4 linked regions of the Homo sapiens genome follow. The protein of the gene in region 2 interacts with the protein of the main gene of each other region in a biochemical or structural test. Each region holds a gene or a part of one and is shown on either strand. Other genes may lie near its edges.

The links.
Region 1: the proteins of HSH2D (region 2) and MET form a complex in vitro, tested with the Homo sapiens proteins (one large-scale study listed by BioGRID and IntAct).
Region 3: the proteins of HSH2D (region 2) and GAB1 form a complex in vitro, tested with the Homo sapiens proteins (one large-scale study listed by BioGRID and IntAct).
Region 4: the proteins of HSH2D (region 2) and ERBB4 form a complex in vitro, tested with the Homo sapiens proteins (one large-scale study listed by BioGRID).

Annotation. Positions count from the first base shown.
Region 1 is NC_000007.14:116,678,321-116,682,898, reverse strand, and holds part of MET (hepatocyte growth factor receptor isoform b preproprotein), read right to left. Parts: intron 1-4,578. UniProt on the Homo sapiens protein: Receptor tyrosine kinase that transduces signals from the extracellular matrix into the cytoplasm by binding to hepatocyte growth factor/HGF ligand. Regulates many physiological processes including proliferation, scattering, morphogenesis and survival.
Region 2 is NC_000019.10:16,153,128-16,156,900, reverse strand, and holds part of HSH2D (hematopoietic SH2 domain-containing protein), read right to left. Parts: coding exon 3,693-3,773; intron 2,503-3,692; coding exon 2,410-2,502; coding exon of another isoform or gene 2,286-2,409; exon of another isoform or gene 2,239-2,285; intron 1,260-2,238; coding exon of another isoform or gene 1,138-1,259; intron 1-1,137. UniProt on the Homo sapiens protein: May be a modulator of the apoptotic response through its ability to affect mitochondrial stability. Adapter protein involved in tyrosine kinase and CD28 signaling. Seems to affect CD28-mediated activation of the RE/AP element of the interleukin-2 promoter.
Region 3 is NC_000004.12:143,412,753-143,417,330, forward strand, and holds part of GAB1 (GRB2-associated-binding protein 1), read left to right. Parts: intron 1-2,724; coding exon 2,725-3,019; intron 3,020-4,578. UniProt on the Homo sapiens protein: Adapter protein that plays a role in intracellular signaling cascades triggered by activated receptor-type kinases. Plays a role in FGFR1 signaling. Probably involved in signaling by the epidermal growth factor receptor (EGFR) and the insulin receptor (INSR).
Region 4 is NC_000002.12:211,377,705-211,381,575, forward strand, and holds part of ERBB4 (receptor tyrosine-protein kinase erbB-4 isoform JM-a/CYT-1 precursor), read right to left. Parts: 3' UTR 1-3,871. UniProt on the Homo sapiens protein: Tyrosine-protein kinase that plays an essential role as cell surface receptor for neuregulins and EGF family members and regulates development of the heart, the central nervous system and the mammary gland, gene transcription, cell proliferation, differentiation, migration and apoptosis.

The sequences.
Region 1 (4,578 bases), on a different chromosome or scaffold from region 2:
TGTGTTTACTCTCTAAACTATAAGGAAAGATCTTATACTGAGAATAAGGAGAGCCCAAAAGATGCAAGAGCTTAAGAAATGGTGAGAGTTTGGAATCACTGCAGTGGGCATGGCGAAAAATTGGACTGGAGACATGCAAACAGACTTGCTGGTTAAGAGAATCAGGTGCTATGAATTGGGCAAAATGGGAAAGAACCAAAACAAGAATGAAAGTTCACTCCAGGTCATCCTTATCCTAATGCACAATGTCCATTCTCATTGAACGTCTTCACTGTCAGTAGGCAGGTTTGGGCATTAAATGGTTACATAATTATGAACTCAGTGGTAAATTCCTTGTAATGTTTATATAATTCATCAGGTCTATGGGCCCTTATTAACAGAAAATGCCAGCATTTAATTATTTTTATTTCAAAACCGGTTTTATTGAATTCTGCAAGGAATAACTTCAGGGAAAAGAAAACACATTGAAACAGATACTCTCCTCTCTTTTCAATAAAGCCAACAGTCTAAAGATGTTAAAGAAATAAATCACATATAATGATCATCTAACTCTGAAAATTAAAACCCATTTAGGGATTATGAAGGAACCTTGATCCTGGATACCAGTCTAAGTTATTCGTCTAATATCTTTAATAATGTTTGGAAAGTAATTAATCAACTTATGACATAGATTCAAGGGCTGTCACCTTTCATTGTCATTAATGAAACTGTCTGGGATTTTATCTGCACTTTTCTGGTGATTTAAAGAACAATTTTTTTTTGGTAAGTTCTTTGAAGACCAAAAGAATGTTTAAAATCACTGGGCCTTGACGTACAGATTTCAATGAACAATAATCCAAGTATGTGTTAGTGAGACCGAAATAAAATTTAGAAATATCTTAATTTTGACAAGACAGAAAGGGAATTTTTGAAAAGTCCAAAATGCATATTCATTTATGTTAGGAGGAAGTTTTTTTTTTTGTCAACAATCTCTGCTTTGGTTACTTCTTTACATAATACAAATTACAAATATCATACTATTTGATACTCATTAAAAACAACAATAGCTAAGGTAATATTTTAAGCCCAAAGGTTTGCCTAGGTCCTAAGTGATCATATTGGCTTGCTGTCTTTGTATTAACCAGATGGTTGTGAGACCACAGTCTCACTTTGGACAGTGTAGCCATTGGCTGGAGCCATATGAATTCTGCCTGAAGTGAGGGCAGAATCAGATGAAAGTGGCTCACCTAAGACCCTCAGAGGAGCCAAAAGACAAGTAGTGAAGGCAGGCCTTGATAGAAGCTTTCCTTGAATCTTTATATCACTGTCTAAATTCGTATTTAGAATAGAAAAATACAATTCCTACATCCATGCTAGTATGAACTTTGTATAGTCAAGGACCAAAGAAATGGTTTCAAGGTAGTATCCTCAAGGAAAGCTAATATATATCCCCAGAGACAATATCCCAGTGGAAAAGGATTACAGATAACAGGTTTTAGGGCCATAACTTTTGGTCCCAACAGGAATTTATAGATTATAATGAGCTAGATATGCTAGAATATTTCAGTCATGAAAATGGTGTAAAACCTTTATAAATTTGCCTGAGTTTTCTTTTTATATTTTGATTTCCTCAGAGAAAATGGAATTTCATTTAGAGTGCCTGGGAGTAGATAACAGAGTGCTTAGAACATGCCTCTGACACTCAGAATAAAAGCTTTCTCTGCTTCTGTGACATATTCCTGCTATTCTTCCTGGTAACTGAGGGGAGGACAGACTAAGAGGCCCAATTTAGGACTGGATAGATGATAGTCTATCTTTCTCCAGAATCAAACCACATGTAACACAAGTTGGCAGAAATTTAGACTTTGTAAAGCAATGTCTAAATTTTCCCACCATTTCCCAAGGTGGGAAAATGGTAAAGGTACCATTTTCCCATGAGCTTTACTTTATTCCATACCCTCCCTCCCCCACTTTTTCTGAGACAGGGTCTCTCTTTGTCACCCATGCTGGAGTGCAGTGGTATGATCTCGGCTCACTACAGCCTTGGCCTCCCAGGCTCAGGTGATCCTCCCACCTCAGCCTCCTGAGTAGCTGGGACTGCAAGTGTGCGCCACCATGTCCAGCTACTTTTTGTAATTTTTTTAAGAGGGGGGTTTTGCTATGTTGCCCAGGCTGGTCTCAAACTCCTGAGCTCAAGCCATCCACCCACCTTGGCCTCCTAAAGTGCTGGGATTACAAGCGTGAGCCACTGTGCCTGGCCTATACACCATTTTGACCTGCCTCTTTCCTACTTAGAATTCAGGCAGCCTGATTCTTAATGGGACACCCTCTTTATGACTTAGGGTGCACTCAAGCCCATGACCCTTCAGCATATCCCGCCCACCTTTCCCCTTCCTTTGCTCATTGATCCAATATCCCATCTAAACCTCCAGGCCTTCTCCTTTATTATCTATTTTCTATATATGGCATAAGAATTGTCATAAAAAATCTTTCTTAAATTGAACTACATTTTCCCAACTGTTCAAATACTCAGGCATTCATTCATTTTTCAAGTTGTGAGACCTTTACATTGGAATTTTAAAAGTCATGTAAATACGAATGTGTACAAAAACACTGATATATGATTTATTACTGATGGTTTGGTTCCACCAATGAAATAAAAATTAGGCATGTCTAAACAAAGCTGTATAAATAAGTCAGTGCTGATACAGTGCCATCTACAATTAAATGTCAAAACAAGCTGTAATGATAATGTATTTAGTAAATCTTCAGGTTAACCTAAGAGAATCTCTATTTTAAGACCCTATTAACACAATTTTCCTTTTACCCCCCCGCCCCCTCAAGATATAAGAAATTGCCAATTCCATCACCCCAAATGTGATACTAAAACAGCATGCTTTTCACCAGGAAAGGTTTTCTGAGGATAAAAATGTGATGAGCCATTAGAAATTCACAATATGGTATCAAGAAAGATCTCAATGCCTATATTTTAGCATGATAGTTTATTTCTTTAAGAGAGAAGGAGCTGCTGTCTCCAAAGCAGCCATTCTTTAATCATGTCATTTGAAATGCACTTAAAGCTATGTCAAATTCATATAGGAAGTCTGGTTACCAGAAAATACACATTCACAAACAGGAAATCTAACTACAGCAAGAAGGTGTTTTCCCCCGACACAATAGAGTTCAAAGATGTGTCATCCATGTAATTTGGAGCAATACCCAACACCACTCTTATTGCTGAGTATTCCTCTCTCCCCTCTCCTATATTATGACAACTCGTGATTATAGCATTACGTTTTCTAAGCCTGTTTGGACTTGCTGCTCTTGCTTATACATACAAGCGACCTGCCCTTTTTCTGTGCATAGCTTTCAATCAGTAAGCATGTCAAGGTGGGAGGAAGGATGACAGGAATAGTAAAAGGGGGAAAATCAATTTTCAGAAAGCATATGGCAACAACTGAATATTTAATCAAATTAGTCTAGAAATTCCTTCCTATTTTCAGCACTCTTTGCAAGGCAGTTGCTTCATGGTGCAAAATGAATTTCAATAAATGTCATATATTTAGTTAGATGGCTTATTTTAAAAATTTGTCGAACAAGGTCACTGACTTAGAATAGATCTTATTCCAAGGTATGACAGATGGATATCAATATTGAATAGAAGAACTGACATTAGCTAGAAGTTTCTGGGCAGAAGAAAGAGTCATTCAACACTCTACAAAATACTTACTGAGTACCTACTATGTGCCAGAATAAAATGATGAATATTTGGGCTTTGTATTTATATTACAAAACAGAGAGGAAATGTGTCAAAATAATTTCCTTGGGGTTAGTAAGGATTACAACTGAGTATTACTGGTAAACAAGGACTTTAAAAAGTGCTTAAAATTTTCACATTGCATCATTCAAACATCCATACTGTCATGGTTGCAAGATTTTAGACCTAATCAGATTTTTGAGGATGCTGTTTATTGACGCTTAGCAAAAACCAACTTCCTATTTTTTTCTGGAACAAAAAGGCCTTACACAATTTTAGAGATCTCTTGGACATCAAAGAGCTTAGAGGGACATACAGTTTGTGAGTAATGATTTAAGATTTAGTGAATCAAAGACACATGGATTAAATTTCCCTTAAAAGACCCCTAGGTTTAAAATTTAATAGCTAAAATGCTGGTCTAGATACACTCTGGTCCCAATGCTGGTCCCAAGCAAAGCCAAAACCTATTTTTAAAGCTAGGTTGAATTGTCTTATGGACCCAAACCTTGGCTGGGTTTTCCTTTCCCACATGATTAGGCCTCAAAGGAGGCAACCTATCTCTAATAAATTTACCACTTCTCTTTTTCTCTGACTTGCAAAGACCATATTATTTCAAAGGTCTCAGCTTTGAATGTCTTTCTTTACATTTTTAATAAAATATTAAAAATTAGAAATCTTCCACGGTCTTATCAAACAGTTATTCCCCAAGTCATTCTTTTTTAAAAAAAAACATACATTTTCAAATTGGACCTGAGAGTCTAGGTGCTGCCTCAGAATTCCAACTATTAAGGAGTAGGAGACCATTTCAAAACAGGAATAGACCACTGATCTTAATATGTATA
Region 2 (3,773 bases):
GATTCTCCTGCCTCAGCCTCCCAAGTAGCTAGAACCAAAAGCACACCACCACGCCTGGCTAATTTTTGTATTTTCAGTAGAGACATGGTTTCACCATGTTGGCCCTGGTGGTCTTGAACTCCTTACCTCAGGTGATCCACCCACCTCGGCCTCCCAGAGTGCTGGGATTACAGATGAGAGCCACCGCACCTGGCCTGGCAAACTTCTTTTACAAAGAGTCAGAGAGTAAATATTTCAACTTTGCAGGCTGTACCATCCGTCTCAATTATGTAGCTCTGCTGTTGTAGCGGATGCCAGAGGTCACACGTGAACCAATGAGCGTGCCTGGGTTCTAATATAGCTTTATTGATAAACATGGAAATATGAATTTTATCTGATTTTCACAGGTTACAAAATACTATCTTTACAAAAATGTGGGGCCAGGTGTGATAGCTCATGCCTGTAATCCCAGTGCTTTGGAAGGCTGAGGCAGGAGGATTTTTTGAGGCCAGGAGTTTGAGACCTGCCTGGGCAATGTAGTGAGACCCCATCTCTACAAATCTTTTTTTTTTTTGAGAGGGTCTTGCTTTGTCACCCAGGCTGGAGTGCAGTGGTGCAATCATGGCTCACTGCAGCCTCGACCTCCCAGGCTCAAGCAATCCTCCCACCTCAGCCCCCAGAGTAGCTGACTACAGGCGTGCGCCACCATGCCTGGCTAATTTTTTTATTTTTTGTGGAGACGGGCTTGCTGTGTTGCCCAGGCTGGTCTCAAAGTCCTGGCCTCAAGCAATCCTCTCCTCTCAGCCTCCCAAAGCACTGGGAATACAGGTGTGAGCCACTACGCAGACCAAATATCCATGTTTCTTTCCACACCTGGGCTCTCATTTTTGTCCCTCCCACCTTGACACTGTCCTCCACCCCCACCTCACTTCCTCCTTCTTTCCATCTCCACCAGTGCCCAGGAAAGCCCCTTCTGCAGCCAGTAGCCACAGGAAACATTTAAAACCACCAGTTCCGGCCAGGTGTGGTAGCTCACGCCTATAATCCCAGCACTTTGGGAGGCCGAGGTGAGCGGATCATGAGGTCAGGGGTTTGAGACCAGTCTGGCCAACATGGTGAAACCCCGTCTCTACTAAAAATACAAAAATTAGCACGCACCTGTAGTCCCAGCTACTCAGGAGGCTGAGGCAGGAGAATCGCTTGAACCTGGGAGGCGGAGGTTGCAGCGAGCCTAGACTGTGCCATTCCACTCCAGCTTGGTCGACAAAGCAAGACTCCGTCTCAAAAAAAAAAAAAAAAAAAGTCCTCCCATGCATACACTCTCCTTTGGCTCCTCCCTGGTGCAACTGGACTAGAATCCCAGCTCCTCACCTTGGCTCCAAGGCCCTGCACTATTGGCCCTTCCTGACCCTGGGGCTTCAACTTCTGACAATCTCTCTCTCACTAACCCCAATCCATCTATATGCTGGCTTTTTTTGTTCTGTTTTCCAAACACACCAAGCCCCAGGACTTTTGCAAGTGCCATTCCCGCTGCCTGGAATGTCCTCCCTGTGTCTGTGTGTATGACTGGCTCCTCCTCACCTTGCAGATCTCAGCTATAAGCCACCTCCTCTAGGAAGCCTTCCCTGACTGCCTTCCCCCACTTGCACCCCCCACCTCCACTGATGTCCATCACACCAGCCTGTTTCATTTGTACCACTGTCATAACTTCCCCTGCTGGGCAGGGGGCTTGGAGAGCACTTAGACTTCAACCTAGGGGTGCCTAAAGGTCTCCCAAACCCCAAGATGCTGTGATACATTCATTCATCTACTCCACAGATTCATTAGTTAAGCACCTTCAATATGGCAGGTCCTTTCAGAGGGGTGGGAGAAGCAAAGGCAAACAAGCCAGATGGAGTCTCCAGTCTCTCAGAGCTCACAGTCTGACTGGAAAGGCAGCCAGGGAGCATGTAAACCCATAAGTAAATAGGATTTTGAGGAACACTTTTGGGAAGTCCGCTGCAGTGAATAAACAGGGTAATGTGAAGGAGAATCCAGAAGGTGTTGCTTTAGGTCTGGGGCCTGGGGAAGGAGGCACTTGAAGGAGAAATGAATGAAGACATGGGAAATCTAGGGGCAGGGCACACAGTTTGTGCAAAGGACCTGAGGTGGGGCCGGCACACGCAGAGACCCCGAGGCTAGCTTGGTGTGTCTGAACAACAGACGGTATGGCAGCAGGGCTGGCGCTGGGTAGGTGACAGGCAGAAAGAGGACCTCAGATTGTAGTTTGAATTTTAATCTCGGTGTTGCAAAAGCACTGGAAAGGTTTAAAGCACCAAGCTGTAGGATCGCATTCTCATTCTAGAAGGAGCCTCCTCTGGAAGCTGTTGACCACCTCCACTCCTGCCCCTCAGCCAGGTGGGAGGTGCCAGCCTCCTGTCATATACATACCTCCTCAGGGGCAGACACCGGGCAGGCAGCTTCCTCGGCCACTGCGTTGGAGTAGAGGAAGAGATCCTCGTAATCCACGTTTGCGGGATCCTTCTGCAGGGCGGAAGGGGCCTGTAGCTCAGCACTAGGGAGGGGGAAAGGTCCTGCACGGACCCTGGAAGGCAGGTCTCAGGGACCATCCCTTGAATAGCAGTTTCTTAGTACCTAGGCCACGCCCACTAAGCGTTATAAGAAAATATGCCCCACCCACAGCCATTTCTTAGGGATTGGGACACACCCACTGAGCCTTCTAAAGAAAGATGCCCCGCCCATAGCACGTTCTTGGGAGCTAGGCCACACCCACTGAGCCTTCTAAGGAAAGATGCCCCGCCCACAACAGTTTCTTGGGCGCTAGGTCAGGCCCACTGAGTCCTATAAGGAAAGATGCCCCACCCACAGCAGTTTCTTGGGAGCTAGGCCACACCCACTGAGCCTTCTAAGGAAAGATGCCCCACCTACCACAATTTCTTGGGAGCTAGGCCAGGCACACCAAGCCCTATAAGGAAAGATGCCCTGCCCACAGCAGTTTCTTGGGGACTAGGCAACACCCACTGAGCCTTCTAAGGAAAGATGCCCCGCCCACAGCAGTTTATTGGGAGCTAGGCCACACCCACTGAGCCTTCTAAGGAGAGATAACCCCCCTCAGCAGTTTCTTAGGGGCTAGGCCACGCCCACTGGGCCTTCTAAGGAAACATGCCCTGCCCACAGCAGTTTATTGGGAGCCAGGCCACCCACTGAGCCTTCTAAGGAAAGCGTATTGGGAGCCAGGCCACGCCCACCGAGCTTCTAAGGAAAGATGCTCCACCCACAGCAGTTTATTGGGAGCCAGGCCACACCCACTGAGCCTTCTAAGGAAAGATGCTCCACCCACAGCAGTTTATTGGGAGCCAGGCCACACCCACTGAGCCTTCTAAGGAAAGCGTATTGGGAGCCAGGCCACGCCCACCGAGCCTTCTAAGGAAAGATGTCATTCCTTCAGATGAGCCAAGATTATACCTGGCACATGAACCCTTATAAAAAATCAGCCTGTTGACATGGGCCTGGAGGGCGGAGCCATGGGGAAGCAGGAACCACAACGGAGACCGCTGTGGGGGGCAGAGGGACTACTGGGGTGGGGCCGGAGGGGCCAAGGACCATGAGAGTGACAGAATCAAGAGGAGCTGATGGGGGCGTGGGAAACAAAGGGGTCTGGGGGGCTTGGCCCCAAGGAAATGGCTGTGAACCTTGTGGGTCCCCGCCCTCACCTGCCTGCAGGGCTGTGTCAGCAGCTCCCTGCGCGGCTCAATTGGCTTCTGCTGGTGGAAGGTGACCAGGGCGTCCAGCGA
Region 3 (4,578 bases), on a different chromosome or scaffold from region 2:
GGGGAAAACATGTGCAAAGTCCCTGAGGCAGGTAAGAGTTTAGCCTCCTATAAACCCTATTATTGGAGGGGGAAAAGTGACAGTTGATGGAAATTGAGAGAAAAAAGACAGGAAACTGTATTTAAAAGATGAACTATACAAGCATAGCAATATGGTACTATTTATTAATAGTATAGGGGCAAATGACACTCTATACAGTGCAACAGCCTCTGAGAGTCTCCTGAAGTGCAGTATAGAAATGGATGCTTACAATACTTAGTCTGAATCATTGGGGAATGGATTATGTTTGGTGAAGTATGTAGTAAAGCATTTTAGAAAGATTTGCGTGCAAGACAATAAAGTTTTAAAAAGTCATTTCTGTATTTAAAGATGAAGCTTCACTATCTGGAGAAATCACTTACTGAATGATATGATTTCTTGAGGGCCCTGCATAAATAACATCATATTTTATATTCTTTTGCTTTACTTCTGCATTACTTTTTAAAGCTTACTGCTTGAGAGGGAAGTATCCATAGAGGGATAATTTTACTAAGAGATGATATTTATTTATTTTGCAGTAAGTAGATGCATATTCAATGAATGGATTTTTATAGTCCAGAAAACAGTGCTAAAATCATGTGAATCCAACACTTTATGACTTTTCAATATTATCTAAAACATCTATAGGACTCTACCCTGCCTTCCCTGGACACAAATTATATACTTATTCCTTTGAGCTGCGTGAAGAATGAGAAGTTAATTTAAAATGTTGATGATTAAAGACCTATATAATGTTTTTAGGCCTTTGTGATCTCTGGTCATCCTCTTGTTAAAGGATTGCCTAAATTTTTCTGTAGAGGAATGCTTGTTCATGTAGCAATACCTCTGCAGACATTTTGCCTGGGTTGCTGTAGTCTCAAGTATTTTCATGTATGTTAAATATTTTTTTCCACAATTAGTCAATTCTTTGAAGGTAGGAATAATGAATTATATACTTGTTTTTCTTCCCACAAGTAGCAAAGGGAATGTTTTATTCCACTGGGGGTTTTCGAGTCCTTCCACTTCCCAGAGCATCCCCACCACCCCGCTGCCCTTTTTTTTTTTTTTTTTTTTTTTTGAGGAGGAGTCTTCTTCTGTCCAGGCTGGAGCGCAGTGATCTCAGCTCACTGCAACTGCCAACTCCGGGTTCAAGCGATTCTCCTGCCTCAGCCTCCTAAGTAGCTGGGATTACAGGAACCTGCCACCACACCCAGCTAATTTTTGTATTTTTTAGTAGAGACGGGGTTTCACCATGTTGGCCAGGCTGGTCTCGAACTCCTGACCTCAGGTGATCTGCCCACCTCGGCCTCCCAATGTGCTGGGATTACAGGCATGAGCCACTGCACCCAGGCCCAGAGTGTCCTCTTGAGGTAGTCTTACCTAGAATGTTGAATCTGGAGCAGAGAATGTTTCTTAGTAAATGACTGAGACTTGCTAAAATAGGCCTCTTTTCTGTCTAGCTGCCTCCCTGAGGAAGAATTTCAAAGAGGAGTAAGGTGTAAGTTTGTTTCCAGGCACACATGTTGGGGTTAAAGGCTGATAAGGAAGGCTGTTTGTCATTTGGTTCTGCTTTTATTATTTGGTGACCATAGATTTAGGGAGGGTGATAGTAAAATAATTTTTTAGGCTTCTCTAGGTATAGTATTAAACTCAAAATTTACCAGAACTTGTGGAGGGGGTATGTGGTGAGTGTATTACAGATTGCCCATGTATGTTTGTTGGGAAGAGGAGGGGAAATATTAGAAAGAGTTAAATCCCATACTCAAGAATACAGGTCTTACTCGTATAGTCTTTGAACAACAGGCTGTGTGGCTAAAAGAGAGACACAATCAATTGCTTCCCAGTCAAGAAGCCAGAAAAGCTTCAAAACCTTTCCCCCTCCCTACTCCTTGCCACCGCACCTAAAAAAAAGAGAAATCTTTTAAGTGTTTAAAATCTGTAGGAGTCTTATGAAGAAGCAGCTTTATGTGTATTCTTTATGGCATAATATTAATGCATGAAAATCTGTTGCTTTTTTAAAAATTGTGGCAAAATATACATAACATAAAATTTATCATTTTAGCTATTTTTAATATACAATTCACTAGCATTAAGTATTAATACATTCACAGCACCATTGCAACCATGGCCACCATCATCTCCAGAACTTGATCTTCTTCAACTCAAACTCTAGGCCCATTAAATACTGTAATAACTCTCCATTTCCCACCCCTCCCCCTCCGCAGGGCCTGACAAATACCATTCTGCTTTCTGTCTGTATGAATTTGACTACTTGAACTACCTCATATAAGTGGAATCATACAATATTTGTCTTTTTATGACTGGCTTATTTCACTTAGCATAATGTCCAGCTTCATTCTTTTGCGTATGGATTTCTAGTTTTCCTAACACCATTTGTTGAAACCATGACTTTTTCATATTTAGTAAAAACTGAATCCTCCTTGATGTATTGCCTCAATATTATATAGTAGGAGATTTAATCGAACATACTGAATATATATATACATTATTAAGTTAATTGAGTTATGAGTAAACGTTGCTTTTCAGAGTGGCAGATTATCCTGTGGTAAAAACACACACACAAACACACACATATTGTGACTTTCTCTAAACAATGCATTTGTAAAATCAGTTTGATAAATGTGCATCTTCTTGAAAACATTATCTCAAGTTAATACTGAATGGATATTTTTGTTTTGTTTCTAGGCATGGAAGAGGAGATGGTTCGTGTTACGCAGTGGCCGTTTAACTGGAGATCCAGATGTTTTGGAATATTACAAAAATGATCATGCCAAGAAGCCTATTCGTATTATTGATTTAAATTTATGTCAACAAGTAGATGCTGGATTGACATTTAACAAAAAAGAGTTTGAAAACAGCTACATTTTTGATATCAACACTATTGACCGGATTTTCTACTTGGTAGCAGACAGCGAGGAGGAGATGAATAAGTGGGTTCGTTGTATTTGTGACATCTGTGGGTTTAATCCAACAGAAGAAGGTAAGTTCAAGATATTACTATTCAACTTGAATTCTTCTTTTCTGCTACATTTCCAGAAATGTCATACAATTCTTTGTTATTTTAGTTACACAATATAATGTTTTATTTTTATAATAGGAACTTGACATTTGGAAAAAGCACTGAATCCTTTAATTAGTTTGGGGAGAAGCTGTTTACCAGTTTTAGAGCGACAGACTTAGACATATTGGGGCAGTTTTTAAATATCCTGAAGTAAAAGGTGACAAGAAGACATTTTAAGAACATTTATTGAATTCCAATATAAATATTCAGTTTAACCATATAACACTGTTGATATTTTACTATTTTTCACCTATTAAAAAATAGCACATTTGGCCGGGCGCGGTGGCTCATGCCTGCAATCCCAGCACTCTGGGAGGCCGAGGCGGGTGGATCACGAGGTCAGGAGATCAAGACCATCCTGGCTAACACAGTGAAACCCTGTCTCTACTAAAAATACAAAAAAAAATTAGCCGGGCTTGGTGGCAGGCACCTGTGGTCCCAGCTACTCCAGAGGCTGAGGCAGGAGAATGGTGTGAACCCGAGAGGTGGAGCTTACAGTGAGCCGAGATCGCGCCACTGCACTCCAGCCTTGGCGACAGAGCGAGACTCCGTCTCAAAAAAAAAGCACTTTTATGTAGCTCAACCCAATTCTTTAGGTGCTATTTAAAAATATATTTTAAAACTATATTAGATTATGGCCGGGCACAGTGGCTCACACCTATAATCCCTGCACTTTGGGAGACTGAGGCAGATGGGTCACTTGAGGTAAGGAGTTCTTCAAGACCAGCCTGGCCAACATGGTGAAATTCCATCTCTACTAAAAATACAAAAATTATCCAGGCATGGTGGCACACGCCTGTAGTTCCAGCTACCCAGGAGGCTGAGGCAGGAGAATCGCTTGAACCCAGGAGGCGGAGGCTACAGTGAGCCACAATTGCACCATTCCACTCCAGCCTGGGCGACAGAGCAAGATGCCGTCTCAAAAAACTATATTAGATTATCCCATTTATGCCTAGTGTTCCATTATTGGAACGCTAAGCATGTGGGAGTTATTTATATCCCACTGCTCAAGGTCATCGCCAAGGTCTGATTGCAAACATTCAAAAAATTGCAACCTCAAGCATAAATAGGTTATGAAGTTAGGAAATAGCCAAGGTAATTATCATTACCTATGAAATGCAAGTGAGAATCAGTCACAAAACACAATGAACAAGTACCAAACAAATGAATTACTTAGCACAGGTCCTACAAGGAACATGGAAGAAGAAAGAGGGGCTCAAGGTTTGGGTAAGAGGTAGTGAAGGAAAGCTTCTGAAAGGAAAATAAATTGCAAAATGTAGGCTTTTGAAAGAAACAGTATTTCTGTGTAAATGAAAGGAGGGACGCAGAACCCTCCAGGCTTAGGGACTTAGGAAAGAACAGACCCAGAGAAGGAATCGAATTTTACTTGACTGGGGCAGTAAGGCTCTGAGTGAAAAAGGCCCAGGGACAGTTGCTTACAAATCTTGAATGAGGGACTGAGATTTGGGGTGCCTATC
Region 4 (3,871 bases), on a different chromosome or scaffold from region 2:
ATAAGTTAATTTACTGGCAAAAATAACTTCTTGGTTATATGTACAGCTTTTATGTAAAGATTAAATCGAAGTTCTACCAAGTGTATGTGGACATATGTGAGTTTCAAGATTCATCACAGGGCTAACTCGTCTCAAATTCCTATAGGGAAGGACACAGAGAATTGATCTTCATGGGAAACCATAATTTTAATAGCTTAAATATTCTCTATGCGGTAGTTTGATAGTTCACTTAAACAGTGTCCAAATTGCTAGAATCTCTTATGAAAAAATCAGGCATTCGAGGGCAAAGATGAAGTCAGTGTTTCACAAAGTGGGGTGTAGGATCTCAGAGATCCACTATGGCTTAAGAAAGGAACAGGACAGCATCGGGGGACTACTTTGAACCAGGGTGGTAGAAAGGGAAGAGAGCAGTGCCAGTTGTGTCAATGGGCAAAAAAGGGAAGGATTCTATTTTCCTCTAAAGGTCAGAGAGAAATACATTTTTCTTTGATTCCTAACAAGGTAATCACTTACTTGCAAAGCTGACTGTCAAAGAGTATTTTCCAGAGGAAGCATGTGAATACCCCCCGTGAAATTGGGGCTTAGAGTCATTTTAGCTTGTGACTATAGAAGCATTTACTTCTGCCCAAAATGTCACCTGGCCAGGAATTAGGTGAGGCAGGGGCCTGCAAAAGTGACAGATCCTACATTTTTGGACCTCTACAAAATCAGTGAGACTTGAACCGAGTATCTGAAATTTCTATTATTTTAGAGAGACTTTTAATGAAAAGAAAAAAGCAGCTCACACTGCTAAAAGATATTTGCCCACACAAACACAAGGGCCCCTGGCCCGACACAATGCCCACAACAGCTTCTTGTTTCCAACTGCAGAGAGAACTCAGATCTCTGGGATCAGAAAAATTTTATTAATTCTACCCAGAAGTATAAAAACTGGCCCCATTGTAATATCAGTAATAATGAGGTCTCCACTGATAATGATCTTTTAAAATTATGCCTGATCTCATCTGTATAATATTTGTTCTTAAGCAAATAGCAACCAGGCGATACCAATCTGCATTTATATGTTTACATGGGGCAAGGCTGTCCTTCAAACTGATACACACCGAAGTCCATGTACACAAACAGAGGCACAGTAAGATCCTCTGCCCACAGTATATACAGTAGAAGTTAATTTATCTGTTTCTTTTTTTTTTTTTAACAACTAGAAGCTGATGTTGTAGGATCAGCTCTAGGATCCTCTGCCCACAGTATACAGTAGAAGTTAATTTATCTGGTTTTTTTAACAACTAGAAGCTGATGCACATGGATTTCTCATTTGCCCTATAACAATCATCATTCTAATAACTAAAGTCCAAAAGAATGGCAATGCAATAGTTTGAAACGCTTGGTTTAGCATTTATTTATCAGAAAAATTGTGATTCTTTGTTGTCATTTTTGGAGGCAAGAGGGCATAGTGAGAAAAGAAAGGACATATCACCAATTAACTGTATTTTGTTTGTTTGCTAGCTAAATGACACCACTCCTTTTTTTTTTTGTCTCTGCATAAGGTAATAGAACATTTACATTTTCTTTACTTCATCTTGAAGACCCTTACTTAGTCATATGTAACATGTTTGCCTATTAAATTCTGCAAGGTGGTGTTTATTTAAAAAAATAAATAAATACAATTTTCTTTACATTTAAAAAGTGATAAAGGAATAAGAGAATGAGAAAAAATTGTTCATTGTAATGCTTTAAAGCAAGTTTTCCCAAGTGGAACCATATATGCCTACTTTCAGCTAAACCCAACAAACAACAATTTTAAATGGCAAACTTATCTTTTTACTATGCAAAATCCATCCTACATTTTTATATCCTGCATTTAACTTTGTTACATTATACTTGTGGTTAGTTTTCTAGTTTGATTTATTTAATAATATTAAAATCATTTAACATCTGATAACCTAACTAAATCTACATCTTATAGCATTATCGTGGTTCTGTCCAGTTATATACATGCTTTCATGATCACCTTTTCTATTACCTTATGAACTACATATACTAGTTAAATTATCAACAATTACAGATGGATGAATAATTCCAGTTTTGAAATAAAGGTTAGAGAGCTCTAGAAAAACTTGTATTTACATCCTTCCCTGTCAGGCTTAAACAATTTTAATTTTCTTTTCATTTTTGATACTTCAAGAAGCACATTAATAGTCCTTCCAACTTCATCTAGTAGCAGAGCCTCACACAGTCCTTTTCTTGATTTTTCCTTAGCATTGTAAGTATGCACAATCTTCATGCCATGTCTTTCCTTTAGAAGGTATTAGCTCACACACTATAACACTTAAACACTATTCCTTCTCTTAAATTAGATATTCAGTCCTTCTCCCTAATCTACAAAAAAGAATCACTTGATTTTAGTTTGTGTGTTTTAATAGAAATTTGAGTTTTGCGTTGTTTTTCATGCTATTTTAAGAATGTTACTGGAGAAAGGATTCTCATCCTAAGCTGTGCTACTAATACTATGCAGAAAACCAGGAGCTGCTTGGTAGTCTAACACCTTTTGTGGTGCAGATGCTTTGTGGTTCTGGATCTATCCTAGATCAGAGGCCATCTTTCCTCACCTGTTTACCACTTTCTTTAGGCAATCATTTAACTGCAAAATTTTTCCATACCTGCCCAAAATAGGTATAATCTACAAAGTTGGGTGATTTAAAAAATATACTCCGTGTAATTTTAATACTAATTTGTCTCAGATTTACATAATTGATTCTGCAAATTTCAATTGCTACAATTGGCCTCTGGAATCTGATATCCCCCCAAGCACTTTGAAGACTTTAACTGACATTTTAAAATTCTACCCTACTGGACTAAATAAGTTATTCTCTGGAAGGAATGAAACTTTTTTTCTCCCTCTTATACATGCTGAAATATGTTTTCCCAGGGGGGACAAAAATAAAACAAAAAACACTCAAACAACTGAAGTCAATTATATACTACAGAAATCATTCAAAAGAATTATAAAGTGGTGCTATTATAAAGCATTTGGGTCATTTTGGATTATTCCTACATGCATCTCTAGGTATTACCCAACATGTAGAAGTCTTGTGTTCTTAGGAGGAAAGAGACATTCACTAAATACATTTCTGTTACCTTAACAGTTAAAAGTTTGTTTTAACTATTCATTTTTTCCTTCTCCAAAATGAGTGATTCTGCTTTCTATAGCCCAGTAGAAACCATATGCATATTGTAAATCAGAAAAAAAAAATCAAGGTATAGTATCCAAAAAGAGGGCTGTGATGACTCGATGCAGATTTATTTAGAAAGGGAGGCTTATATTCAATTTTTCATAAGTACTGATATGAGATCCCTTTTCCTAGAGACTTCTCTGAATGGATAGGAGAGCCCTGAGCTATTAGATTGTGGCCCCTGAATCACTCTGTGTCTTTACCCCTGAAAAGTTTGAGGGTGAACTTCACTAGAAGGAATCTCACAAACCCTTCTCCTGCTCTACCATACTTTTTCAGCTCGCCTCACTTCTTATAGCTTAGAAAAAAACCAACTCCAATGTCTCCAATATTCTTGGCCAAGGACCACCATCTGCTTTTGGTTTAATGGTGAAGTTAGACTCTAGATAGGCTAATTAGTCAGTGATGCAATATTCTCCTAGACCAGTTTATGTTTGAATAATATTATTGAAATTATCCTGTTTGTCAACATCAACAATTTGAAGGATGTTTAACTTATATCCCAAATGAGTTTAAAGGAGATATCTTACAGTACAACTGATTATATGACAGCTATTCACAAAAGAGACTATGCAATCTGATTGTTGGAACGCATAGAAAAATTAAAATGTCATTTTAATTAAATCTCCTAGATCATA